Linked DNA regions of Homo sapiens. The protein of the gene in region 1 interacts with the protein of each later gene in a biochemical or structural test. Each region holds a gene or a part of one and is shown on either strand. Other genes may lie near its edges.

Evidence for each region. The genes of interacting proteins can lie anywhere in the genome.
Region 2: the proteins of ATXN2 (region 1) and SH3GL3 form a complex in vitro, tested with the Homo sapiens proteins (one study listed by BioGRID).

Annotation. Positions count from the first base shown.
Region 1 is NC_000012.12:111,589,214-111,596,317, reverse strand, and holds part of ATXN2 (ataxin-2), read left to right. Parts: intron 1-7,104. UniProt on the Homo sapiens protein: Involved in EGFR trafficking, acting as negative regulator of endocytic EGFR internalization at the plasma membrane.
Region 2 is NC_000015.10:83,450,341-83,457,340, forward strand, and holds part of SH3GL3 (endophilin-A3), read left to right. Parts: intron 1-7,000. UniProt on the Homo sapiens protein: Implicated in endocytosis. May recruit other proteins to membranes with high curvature.

The DNA of each region.
Region 1 (7,104 bases):
TTGAAGGTGGCTGTTTTAGGAAAGATAATGTAATCACAATATTAGAACATAATTTTACTGTAATCTAATTTTGTGTGTGTGTGTGTGTGTGTGTGTGTGTGTGTGTGTGTGTTTTGGATGGAATCTCACTCTGTCGCCCAGGCTGGAGTGCAGTGGCCTGATCTCAGCTTACTGCAGTCTCTGTCTCCTGGGTTCATTTAAGTGATTCTCCAGCCTCAGCCTCCCCAGTAGCTGGGATTACAGGTTCGTGCTACCACACCTGGCTAATTTTTTTGTATTTTTAGTGAGGACGGGATTTTGCCATGTTGGCCAGGCTGGTCTCGAACTCCTGACCTCAAGTGATCCGCCTGCCTTGGCCTCCCAAAGTGCTGGGATTACAGGCGTGAGCTACTGCCCCTGGCCAATTTTTGTATTTTTAGTAGAGATGGGGTTTCACCATGTTGGCCAGGCTGGTCTCGAACTCCTCCTGACCTCAAGTGATTCGCCAGCCTCGGCCTCCCAAAGTGCCAGGATTACAGGCAGGAATGAGCCACTGCCCCCAACCATCAGTCTAATTCTTATTTTTGCTTTTTACCTTTTCATTTTTATGTAGTAGAGGTGATTGTGTATGTTATTTTGTAGTTAGCTTTTTTCCCCTGAACGTTGTATTGTAAATGTAAATTTTTTTTTTTTTTTTTGAGACAGAGTCTCGGTGTTTGCCCAGTCTGAAGTGCAGTGGTACGATCTCAGCTCACTGCAGCCTCTGACTCCTGGGTTCAAGCGATTCTCCCACCTCAGCCTCTTGAGTAGCTGGGGCTACAGGAATGTTCCACCACGCTTGGCTAATTTTTGTATTTTTGGTAGAGACAAGGTTTCACCATGTTGGCCAGTTTGGTCTCGTACTACCGACCTCAGGTGATGCGCCCGCCTCGGCCTCCCAAAGTGCTGGGATTGCAGGCGTGAGCCACTGCGCCCGGCTGTAAGGTTTTTACTTAACCATTCTATTGTTGGGAATTGGGTTTCCACTTTTTTGTTATAGATAGTGGTGCAGTGAACATTTTTAAATAGCTTTTTGCTTCAGTGTAATTATTTCCTTAGAGAAAGTTACCAAGAGTGGTTTTACTAGTTCAGAGGGCTTCAGGATTTTTATGGCTCTTGCTAGCGGTGCTCTATTATTCTTTAGAAGACTTGTATTACTTCCAGTGTCAAGAAGGTTGCTCTTCCATGGAATGGTTTCTTTGTAGTTTGTCAAATATTGTGGGGAATTTTTAAAGGAAAAATTGCATTTTTACTGTCAAGTGCATATATTATTAAGTGCTTTTGTTAGTTACTGGATTATTGATATTTGAGTTTAATTTGGTTCCTCTGAGGATTTAATAAGGTAATATATGTGAAGATGTTTTGAAACCTGTAACCATTATTATTAATGAGGGTACTTGGTTTATCTGTCGTGCTGATAGTACTGAGTAAAGTGCAGGAATGAAATTCCTGAGGAACTGTTCTAAAGCTTTGTTGTTGTTGTTAACCTTTCTTTTTCATCTGAAAGTGTTTTTTATTAGCTGCTAGCCTATGACCAAGTTATTTTTGGTAACTTTTTTGTAATTTCATGGCACTATTGGGAATTTTCGCTGGTTGACTCTTCTTCTTCTACATTCCCTTCCCCATTAAAAATAAAAATATGGATTTACAATTGTTACTCTATTCCTAAACCTAAATAATATGACATTAGAATTGCTTGGGATACAGGATTCAGTCTGAATAAAATATTTTTCTTTTAGTGATTTTCAGCTTAGTATTTTTACTGCTTCTTTCTCTTGAGGCATTGCAACTTAAAAATTGTGCTGTTTAGCCAGGCGCCTGTAATCCCAGCTACTTGGGAGGCTGAGGCAGGAGCATCACTTGAGCCCAGGAGGCGGAGGTTGCAGTCAGCTGAGATTGTGCCACTGCACTCCAGCCTGGGAGACAGAGTGAGACTCTATCTCAAAAAAAAAAAAAATGTGCTGTGATTTAATGTAGTTGTTCATCATGCTTCCATTTAAATTTCAGTGAGACTGTTCATCTTTTGCAGTTAAATATCTTGTAGAAGGGCCTAAAATATCTACGTTGAATACAGCTTTATTGAAGCATCTATGTACATGGGGTTTTTGGGATGAATCAGTGAATAAAGCAAACATATTGTCCTTTTGGAGTTTACATTCTAATGTGACTAGGCAGACAATGAGACATTAAATTACCAGCCTATGTATAATAGTGTATAAGAGCTATGGAATTAGAAGAAAGCAGATTAAAGGTATAGGGAGTGTGGGGAGGGGAATGAGTTACAATTTTAAATGGATTGGGGGAACTTAATTGAGGAGCTAACATTTGAGCAAAGATTTGAAGGTTGGGTATTTAGCCGTTTGCTTTTTATCTAGGTTAATTAGTCATGTGGCTTCATTAGTAATTTATAAGGTTTAAATGGCATCATCCTTTGTTATTCTTTTATGTGCACATTGATACTAACCATCTCTGAAGTTAGACCAAAAAAGTTAATTGACATTGAGGGTCATTAGAGGTAAATTGTAGATGGCTATTACTAACCAAAGAGACATGTTTTGTTTTTCTTTTGGGCTTACGTATTTTACCTAATTAGTTTAGTTTTTGTTTCAAGTATGTGGAGAAAATAAACTTTTTAAGTTTGGGCCAAAACTTGCTTTGGTTTTCTTTTTCTTTTTCTTTTTTTTTTTTTAAGAGAAAAATGTAAGCCTGTAGTTGCTTAAAGATTCCACATTCTGAAACAGTGAAAACATGGGATCAGTCATGGTGTTCCTTTTTTTGGTTAAATGTAAACTTGTATTTTCAGTGTTACTCTAATTAGCAATGGTTTATACTTCTACATAAGGGATGTTAACTCATATTGTAGCTATTTAATAGCCATATATTTTGACTTAAAGGAGGATCTCAAGGCCAGGCGCGGTGGCTCATACCTGTAATCCCAGCACTTTAGGAGGCTGAGGCGGGTGGATCACCTGGGGTCAGGAGTTTGAGACTAGTCTGGCCAACATGGTGAAACCCCCATCTCTACTAAAAATACAAAAATTAGCCGGGCATGGTGGTGGGCGCCTGTAATCCCAGCTTCTTGGGAGGCTGAGGGAAGAGAATTGCTTGATCCCGGAGGTTGCAATGAGTGCGGAGGTTGCAGTGAGCTGAGATCATGCCATTACACTCCAGCCTGGGCAACAGAGCGAGACTCTGTCTCAAAACAAACAAACAAACAAAAAAAGGAGGATCTCATTTTTTTGTCCTAAATAGCTACAGCCGTGTTAGAACTGTCACCTTAGCAAAGTATTGTTTTTTTACTTTGAAACGAATTTTAAGGTTTTAGAAGATTGTTCTCTAGAATTACAATTTTCTGTTTTGACTAGTGATAGTATTTTGATGTTGTGTAAATAGTTGAGCATGAACAAAACCCTATTTTTTTTTTTAGCTATTTCAAGTGATTGTGACAACTTCAACGGAGATGTAAACAGTTTATTAACAGTCACACCTATTATCTTTTTTTTTTTTTTTTTTTTTTGAGACGGAGTCTTGCTCTGTCGCCCAGGCTGGAGTGCAGTGGCACGATCTCTGCTTACTGCAACCTTTGCCTCCCGGGTTCAAGTGATTCTCCTGCCTCAGCCTCCTGAGTAGCTGGGTCTACATGCGCACACCACCACGCCTGGCTAATTTTTGTATTTTTAGTAGAGACAGGGTTTCACCATGTTGGCTAGAATGGTCTCAAACTCCTGACCTCAGGTGATCCACCTGCCTCAGCCTCCCAAAGTTCTGGGATTACAGGCATGAGCCACCGTGCTTGGCCGCTGCCGTATCTTTTTAAATGAAAGTACTTGTGTTTTTTTTGTTTTTTTCCAAAGGATATCTGGGTCATCTATGATGTTACTGTTACCATCTAAGGGTTTTTTTGTTTGTTTTTGAGACAGAGTCTCTGTCGCCCAGGCTGGAGTGCAGTGGCGTGATCTTGGCTCACTGCAACCTCCGCCTCCCAGGTTCAAGCAATTCTCCTGCCTTAGCCCTCCCGAATAGCTGGGATTACAGGCACCCGCCACCATGCCTGGCTAAGTTTTGCATTTTTAGTAGATATGGAGTTTCACCATGTTGGCCAGGCTGCTCTTGAACTCCTGACCTCAGGTGATTCGCTTGCCTCGGCCTCCCAAAGTGCTGGGATTACAGGCGTGAGCCACCCCCGCCCAGCCTCATGAGCTAAGGTGTTTTTTTTTTTTTTGAGACAGTTTTGCTCTTTCCCAGGCTGGAGTGCAGTGGTGCAATCTCAGCTCACTGCAACCTCTGTTTCCCGGGTTCAAGCGATTCTCCTGCCTCAGCCTTCTGAGTAGCTGAGATTACAGGTGCCTGCTACCCCACTCAGCTAATTTTTGTATTTTTAGCAGAGACAGGGTTTCACCATGTTGGTTAGGCTCATCTCGAACTCCTGACCTTAAGCGATCCACCTGCCTTGGCCTCCCAAAGTGCTGGGATTATAGGCATGAGCCACCGTGCGCAGCCTACCCTGTCTCTTAAAAAACAGTAACAACAACAACAACAACAAAAAATCCTAAATCTTAAAAATGGAAGGCAAAAACTCTAAGCTTTGAGAGATTAGGGGACTTGCCCAAAGCAATATTTGTAGGATTTTATTACACCTCTCCCTTTATTTATTTTTTTAGAGTCAAGGTCTCCCTCTGTCACCCAGGCTGGAGTGCAGCCTCAATCTATGGGGCCAAGCATTTCTCCTGTCTTAGCCTCCTGAGTAGCTGGAACTACAGGTGTACACCAGCTGGCTAACATTTAAATTTTTTGTAGAGACAGGGTCCTGCCATGTTGCCCAGATTGGTCTCAAACTCCTGGGCTCAAGTGATCCTCCTGCCTCAGCTTCCCAAAGTGCTGAGATTACAGGTGTGAGCCACTGCACCGAGCCCCCTCCCTTTATTTTTATTTTTAAATTTTAAGTTCTGGGGCCCCTCCCTTGAAATAAATAGAAACGTAATATATACACAAGATCATGCTGTGTATTTTAAGGCAATGGTCCTCAACCTTTTTAACACTAGGGACCGGTTTTGTGGAAGATGGTTTTTCCATAGGGGCAGGGGATGATTTTGAGATGAAACTGTTCCACCGGCCGGGCACGGTGGCTCACGCCTGTAATCCCAGCACTTTGGGAGGCCGAGGCGGGCAGATCACGAGGTCAGGAGATCGAGACCATCCTGGCTAACATGGTGAAACCCCCCTCTACTAAAAATACAAAAAAATTAGCTGGGCGCGGTGGAGGGCGCCTGTAGTCACAGCTACTCCGGAGGCCGAGGCAAGAGAATGGCATGAAACCCGGGAGGCAGAGCTTGCAGTGAGCTGAGATAGCACCACTGTACTTCAGCCTGGGGGACAAAGTGAGACTCCGTCTAAAAAAAAAAAAATTGTTCCACCTCAGATCATTATGCATTTGTTAGATTCTCATAAAGAGCATACAACCTACATCTCTTGCTATATGCAGTTCCCAGTAGGGTTTGTGCTTCTATAAGAACCTAATGCTGCACCTGATCTAACAGGTGGGGCTCAGGTGCTAATGCTCACACAGCTCCTGTTGTGCAGTCTGGTTCCTAACAGGCCTGTTTTTTTTTTTTTAATTAGATGGAGTCTCGCTCTGTCACCAGGCTGGAGTGCAGTGGCACGATCTCAGCTCACTGCAACCTCTGCCTCCCGGGTTCAAGCGATTCTCCTGCCTTAGCCTCCCATGTAGTTGGTACTACAGGCGCACACTGTGATGCCCAGCTAATTTTTGTATTTTTAGTAGAGACGGGGTTTCACCATGTTGGCCAGGATGGTGTCGATCTCCTGACCTTGTGATCCGCCCAACAGCCTCCCAAAGTGCTGGAATTACAGGCGTGAGCTGCTGCGTCCGGCCCCCTAACAGGCTTGTTTTATGGAATACAGTCACGGACAGTACTTGCCCTTCAGGATATCTTTTTGTAACCTTGATTTTGGCTTGCTAAAATAGGAGGTCTATTTTCTTTTCTTTGTTTTTAATGTATGTGGTTCTGTACTTACGTGGTGTGAAATCTACATAAATGTTAAATCCTTGGTTATTTATTTATTTTGAGACAGAGTCTCACTCTGTCACCCAGTCTGGAAAGCAGTGGCATAATCTCGGCTCACTGTAACCTCCACTTCCCAGGTTCCAGTGATTCTCCTGCCTCAGCCTCCTGAGTAGCTGGGATTACAGGCATGCACCACTACACCTGGCAAATTTTTGTATTTTTTTTTAGTAGAGATGGGGTTTCACCATGTTGGCCAGGCTCGTCTTGAACTCCTGACCTTAGGTGATCTGCCTGTCTTGGCCTCCCAAAGTTTTGGGATTACAGCATGAGCCACTGCGCCTCGCCTTATTTTTTTGAGACAGGTTCTAGCTCTGTCACCCAGGCGGGAGTGCAGTGGTGCCATCATGGCTCATTGCAACCTCGAGTTCTCAGGCCCAAGTGATCCTCCTATCTCAGCCTCCTGAGTAGCTGGGACCACAGGCATGCGCCACTATGCCCAGCAAAATTTTTGTTTCACTCTGTTGCCTAGGGTGGGGTGCAGTGGCAGGATATCGGCTCAGTGCAACCTCTGCCTCTTGCGTTCAAATGATTCTCATGCCTCAGCCTCCCGAGTAGCTGGGATTATAGGCATGCGCCACTACACCTGGCTAATTTTTGTATTATTGGTAGAGATGGGGTTTTATCATGTTGGCCAGGCTGGTCTCGAACTCCCGACCTCAGGTGATCCATATACCTTGGCCTCCTGAAGTGCTGGAATTACAGGCATAAGCCACTGCGCCTAGCTTTTTTGTTTGTTTTTATTTTGTAGGGACAGAGATTTTACCTGTTGCCCAGGATGGCCTTGAATTCCTGACCTCAAACAATTTGCCCTCCTTGGCCTCCCAAGGTGCTGGGATTACAGGTGTGAGCCACTATGCCTGGCTGGTTTTTTAAATTATTATTATTGTTTGTGTGTGTGTGTTGCAGGATCTTACCCTGTCACCCAGGCTGGAATGCAGTGATGTGATCTCGGCTTACTGCAACCTCCGCCTCCTAGGTTCAAGTGATTGTCCTGCCTCAG
Region 2 (7,000 bases), on another chromosome or scaffold:
CTGAAATTCTTAAGTAAGTTAAGCATTTCAGAGTAAGACAAAGATGATAAAGTGGACCTTTTACAGAGAAGGGATCCAGGACCATGGCAAACTGAGATAGTTTTCTGAAAGATAAGCGAGGTAAAATTAGCTATAACCCGGTTAACTGTTCCTTTTTTCCTGATACCTTCCCTATCTCTGGGAAAAAACCCCTACTTTACAGAGAATGAAGACTCGTAAACCCTGGGGATTATGCATCATTTTGGCAGCACATGGAGACCAACAGGAAAGAGGAAGAAATATGCTAAAATGAGAAGAATATAAGTTAACAAAAAAATTTAATTAATTCTAAGTTTCAGCGTTTGAGACTAGAACCCAAATTTTTCTTTTTTTTTTTTTTTCTAATATGCATTATCCTTTATTAAAATGGGATATTTTTCTTTTTTTTTTTTTTTAAGGTTATAGATTTTCTTTTTTTTTTTTAATTTTTTTTTTTCTATTATACTCTAAGTTTTAGGGTACATGTGCACATTGTGCAGGTTAGTTACATATGTATACATGTGCCATGCTGGTGCGCTGCACCCACTAAAGTGTCATCTAGCATTAGGTATATCTCCCAATGCTATCCCTCCCCCCTCCCCCGACCCCACCACAGTCTCCAGAGTGTGTTATTCCCCTTCCTGTGTCCATGTGATCTCATTGTTCAATTCCCACCTATGAGTGAGAATATGCGGTGTTTGGTTTTTTGTTCTTGCGATAGTTTACTGAGAATGATGATTTCCAATTTCATCCATGTCCCTACAAAGGACATGAACTCATCATTTTTTATGGCTGCATAGTATTCCATGGTGTATATGTGCCACATTTTCTTAATCCAGTCTATCATTGTTGGACATTTGGGTTGGTTCCAAGTCTTTGCTATTGTGAATAGTGCCGCAATAAACATACGTGTGCATGTGTCTTTATAGCAGCATGATTTATAGTCCTTTGGGTATATACCCAGTAATGGGATGGCTGGGTCAAATGGTATTTCTAGTTCTAGATCCCTGAGGAATCGCCACACTGACTTCCACAATGGTTGAACTAGTTTACAGTCCCACCAACAGTGTAAAAGTGTTCCTATTTCTCCACATCCTCTCCAGCACCTGTTGTTTCCTGACTTTTTAATGATTGCCATTCTAACTGGTGTGAGATGATATCTCATAGTGGTTTTGATTTGCATTTCTCTGATGGCCAGTGATGGTGAGCATTTCTTCATGTGTTTTTTGGCTGCATAAATGTCTTCTTTTGAGAAGTGTCTGTTCATGTCCTTCGCCCACTTTTTGATGGGGTTCTTTGTTTTTTTCTTGTAAATTTGTTTGAGTTCATTGTAGATTCTGGATATTAGCCCTTTGTCAGATGAGTAGGTTGCGAAAATTTTCTCCCATGTTGTAGGTTGCCTGTTCACTCTGATGGTAGTTTCTTTTGCTGTGCAGAAGCTCTTGAGTTTAATTAGATCCCATTTGTCAATTTTGGCTTTTGTTGCCATTGCTTTTGGTGTTTTGGACATGAAGTCCTTGCCCACGCCTATGTCCTGAATGGTAATGCCTAGATTTTCTTCTAGGGTTTTTATGGTTTTAGGTCTAACGTTTAAATCTTTAATCCATCTTGAATTGATTTTTGTATAAGGTGTAAGGAAGGGATCCAGTTTCAGCTTTCTACATATGGCTAGCCAGTTTTCCCAGCACCATTTATTAAATAGGGAATCCTTTCCCCATTGCTTGTTTTTCTCAGGTTTGTCAAAGATCAGATAGTTGTAGATATGCGGCATTATTTCTGAGGGCTCTGTTCTGTTCCATTGATCTATATCTCTGTTTTGGTACCAGTACCATGCTGTTTTGGTTACTGTAGCCTTGTAGTATAGTTTGAAGTCAGGTAGTGTGATGCCTCCAGCTTTGTTCTTTTGGCTTAGGATTGACTTGGCGATGCGGGCTCTTTTTTGGTTCCATATGAACTTTAAAGTAGTTTTTTCCAATTCTGTGAAGAAAGTCATTGGTAGCTTGATGGGGATGGCATTGAATCTGTAAATTACCTTGGGCAGTATGGCCATTTTCACGATATTGATTCTTGCTACCCATGAGCATGGAATGTTCTTCCATTTGTTTGTGTCCTCTTTTATTTCCTTGAGCAGTGGTTTGTAGTTCTCCTTGAAGAGGTCCTTCACATCCCTTGTAAGTTGGATTCCTAGGTATTTTATTCTCTTTGAAGCAATTGTGAATGGGAGTTCACTCATGATTTGGCTCTCTGTTTGTCTGTTGTTGGTGTATAAGAATGCTTGTGATTTTTGTACATTGATTTTGTATCCTGAGACTTTGCTGAAGTTGCTTATCAGCTTAAGGAGATTTTGGGCTGAGACGATGGGGTTTTCTAGATAAACAATCATGTCGTTTGCAAACAGGGACAATTTGACTTCCTCTTTTCCTAATTGAATACCCTTTATTTCCTTCTCCTGCCTGATTGCCCTGGCCAGAACTTCCAACACTATGTTGAATAGGAGCGGTGAGAGAGGGCATCCCTGTCTTTTGCCAGTTTTCAAAGGGAATGCTTCCAGTTTTTGCCCATTCAGTATGATATTGGCTGTGGGTTTGTCATAGATAGCTCTTATTATTTTGAAATACGTCCCATCAATACCTAATTTATTGAGAGTTTTTAGCATGAAGGTTGTTGAATTTTGTCAAAGGCTTTTTCTGCATCTATTGAGATAATCATGTGGTTTTTGTCTTTGGCTCTGTTTATATGCTGGATTACATTTATTGATTTGCGTATATTGAACCAGCCTTGCATCCCAGGGATGAAGCCCACTTGATCATGGTGGATAAGCTTTTTGATGTGCTGCTGGATTCGGTTTGCCAGTATTTTATTGAGGATTTTTGCATCAATGTTCATCAAGGATATTGGTCTAAAATTCTCTTTTTTGGTTGTGTCTCTGCCCGGCTTTGGTATCAGAATGATGCTGGCCTCATAAAATGAGTTAGGGAGGATTCCCTCTTTTTCTATTGATTGGAATAGTTTCAGAAGGAATGGTACCAGTTCCTCCTTGTACCTCTGGTAGAATTCGGCTGTGAATCCATCTGGTCCTGGACTCTTTTTGGTTGGTAAACTACTGATTATTGCCACAATTTCAGAGCCTGTTATTGGTCTATTCAGAGATTCAACTTCTTCCTGGTTTAGTCTTGGGAGAGTGTATGTGTCGAGGAATGTATCCATTTCTTCTAGATTTTCTGATTTATTTGCGTAGAGGTGTTTGTAGTATTCTCTGATGGTAGTTTGTATTTCTGTGGGATCGGTGGTGATATCCCCTTTATCATTTTTTATTGTGTCTATTTGATTCTTCTCTCTTTTTTTCTTTATTAGTCTTGCTAGCGGTCTATCAATTTTGTTGATCCTTTCAAAAAACCAGCTCCTGGATTCATTGATTTTTTGAAGGGTTTTTTGTGTCTCTATTTCCTTCAGTTCTGCTCTGATTTTAGTTATTTCTTGCCTTCTGCTAGCTTTTGAATGTGTTTGCTCTTGCTTTTCTAGTTCTTTTAATTGTGATGTTAGGGTGTCAATTTTGGATCTTTCCTGCTTTCTCTTGTAGGCATTTAGTGCTATAAATTTCCCTCTACACACTGCTTTGAATGCGTCCCAGAGATTCTGGTATGTGGTGTCTTTGTTCTCGTTGGTTTCAAAGAACATCTTTATTTCTGCCTTCATTTCGTTATGTACCCAGTAGTCATTCAGGAGCAGGTTGTTCAGTTTCCATGTAGTTGAGCGGCTTTGAGTGAGATTCTTAATCCTGAGTTCTAGTTTGATTGCACTGTGGTCTGAGAGATAGTTTGTTATAATTTCTGTTCTTTTACATTTGCTGAGGAGAGCTTTACTTCCAACTATGTGGTCAATTTTGGAATAGGTGTGGTGTGGTGCTGAAAAAAATGTATATTCTGTTGATTTGGGGTGGAGAGTTCTGTAGATGTCTATTAGGTCTGCTTGGTGCAGAGCTGAGTTCAATTCCTGGGTATCCTTGTTGACTTTCTGTCTCGTTGATCTGTCTAATGTTGACAGTGGGGTGTTAAAGTCTCCCATTATTAATGTGTGGGAGTCTAAGTCTCTTTGTAGGTCACTCAGGACTTGCTTTATGAATCTGGGTGCTCCTGTATTGGGTGCATAAATATTTAGGATAGTTAGCTCCTCTTGTTGAATTGATCCCTTTACCATTATGTAATGGCCTTCTTTGTCTCTTTTGATCTTTGTTGGTTTAAAGTCTGTTTTATCAGAGACTAGGATTGCAACCCCTGCCTTTTTTTGTTTTCCATTGGCTTGGTAGATCTTCCTCCATCCTTTTATTTTGAGCCTATGTGTGTCTCTGCACGTGAGATGGGTTTCCTGAATACAGCACACTGATGGGTCTTGACTCTTTATCCAACTTGCCAGTCTGTGTCTTTTAATTGCAGAATTTAGTCCATTTATATTTAAAGTTAATATTGTTATGTGTGAATTTGATCCTGTCATTATGATGTTAGCTGGTGATTTTGCTCATTAGTTGATGCAGTTTCTTCCTAGTCTCGATGGTCTTTACATTTTGGCATGATTTTGCAGCGGCTGGTACCGGTTGTTCCTTTCCATGTTTAGCGCTTCCTTCAGGAGCTCTTTTAGGGCAGGCCTGGTGGTGACAAAATCTCTCAGCATTTGCTTGTCTATAAAGTATTTTATTTCTCCTTCACTTATGAAGCTTAGTTTGGCTGGATATGAAATTCTGGGTTGAAAATTCTTTTCTTTAAGAATGTTGAATATTGGCCCCCACTCTCTTCTGGCCTGTAGGGTTTCTGCCGAGAGATCCGCTGTTAGTCTGATGGGCTTTCCTTTGAGGGTAACCCGACCTTTCTCTCTGGCTGCCCTTAACATTTTTTCCTTCATTTCAACTTTGGTGAATCTGACAATTATGTGTCTTGGAGTTGCTCTTCTCGAGGAGTATCTTTGTGGCGTTCTCTGTATTTCCTGAATCTGAACGTTGGCCTGCCTTGCTAGATTGGGGAAGTTCTCCCGGATAATATCCTGCAGAGTGTTTTCCAACTTGGTTCCATTCTCCACATCACTTTCAGGTACACCAATCAGACGTAGATTTGGTCTTTTCACATAGTCCCATATTTCTTGGAGGCTTTGCTCATTTCTTTTTATTCTTTTTTCTCTAAACTTCCCTTCTCGCTTCATTTCATTCATTTCATCTTCCATTGCTGATACCCTTTCTTCCAGTTGATCGCATCGGCTCCTGAGGCTTCTGCATTCTTCACGTAGTTCTCGAGCCTTGGTTTTCAGCTCCATCAGCTCCTTTAAGCACTTCTCTGTATTGGTTATTCTAGTTATACATTCTTCTAAATTTTTTTCAAAGTTTTCAACTTCTTTGCCTTTGGTTTGAATGTCCTCCCGTAGCTCAGAGTAATTTGATCGTCTGAAGCCTTCTTCTCTCAGCTCGTCAAAATCATTCTCCATCCAGCTTTGTTCTGTTGCTGGTGAGGAACTGCGTTCCTTTGGAGGAGGAGAGGCGCTCTGCGTTTTAGAGTTTCCAGTTTTTCTGTTCTGTTTTTTCCCCATCTTTGTGGTTTTATCTACTTTTGGTCTTTGATGATGGTGATGTACAGATGGGTTTTCGGTGTAGATGTCCTTTCTGGTTGTTAGTTTTCCTTCTAACAGACAGGACCCTCAGCTGCAGGTCTGTTGGAATACCCTGCCATGTGAGATGTCAGTGTGCCCCTGATGGGGGGTGCCTCCCAGTTAGGCTGCTCGGGGGTCAGGGGTCAGGGACCCACTTGAGGAGGCAGTCTGCCCGTTCTCAGATCTCCAGCTGCGTGCTGGGAGAACCACTGCTCTCTTCAAAGCTGTCAGACAGGGACACTTAAGTCTGCAGAGGTTACTGCTGTCTTTTTGTTTGTCTGTGCCCTGCCCCCAGAGGTGGAGCCTACAGAGGCAGGCAGGCCTCCTTGAGCTGTGGTGGGCTCCACCCAGTTCGAGCTTCCCGGCTGCTTTGTTTACCTAATCAAGCCTGGGCAATGGCGGGCCCCCCTCCCCCAGCCTCGTTGCCACCTTGCAGTTTGATCTCAGACTGCTGTGCTAGCAATCAGCGCGATTCCGTGGGCGTAGGACCCTCTGAGCCAGGTGTGGGATATAGTCTCGTGGTGCGCCGTTTCTTAAGCCGGTCTGAAAAGCGCAATATTCCGGTGGGAGTGACCCGATTTTCCAGGTGCGTCCGTCACCCCTTTCTTTGACTCGGAAAGGGAACTCCCTGACCCCTTGCGCTTCCCAGGTGAGGCAATGCCTCGCCCTGCTTCGGCTCGCGCACGGTGCGCACACACACTGGCCTGCGCCCACTGTCTGGCACTCCCTAGTGAGATGAACCCGGTACCTCAGATGGAAATGCAGAAATCACCCGTCTTCTGCGTCGCTCACGCTGGGAGCTGTAGACCGGAGCTGTTCCTATTCGGCCATCTTGGCTCCTCCCCTCAGAACCCAAATTTTTCAAGTGCATAGTTAAATATTTTTTCTCTTGACAAGATTTTTTTGATAGAGCTGTTTACTCTTCTGGTAGAGATGTAGCTTGAGCTATTATAAATAAATACAAATAGCATAGATATGGCATTGTGGTTTCTTGTTAAACGTGGTACCTCACCAATAAAAATATAGCTTACAATATTTACATTTGTGTTACCACTCACTGATTTGTATTTGTATGCTTATTTCATAGTAATTTTTCTTGACAGCATTTATTGTTGAAGAAGGAAGTTCAGGGCACACCTATGTGTGTTCTGACCTGGAAAGTACTAATAGTCATATTCTTTCCATTTCTGGACCTTCTTGTCTTCCAGGGTCCTTGTTCTGCATCCCATAAAAGTCCAGGGACCAGTTTCATCTCTTCTCCTCCTCTCCTTCTCTCCCAAGACTAACCATCTACTGATGACACTTGTGGGCTCCATGTTAAATTTACTTCTTTATGCCTTTTAACTTCTGT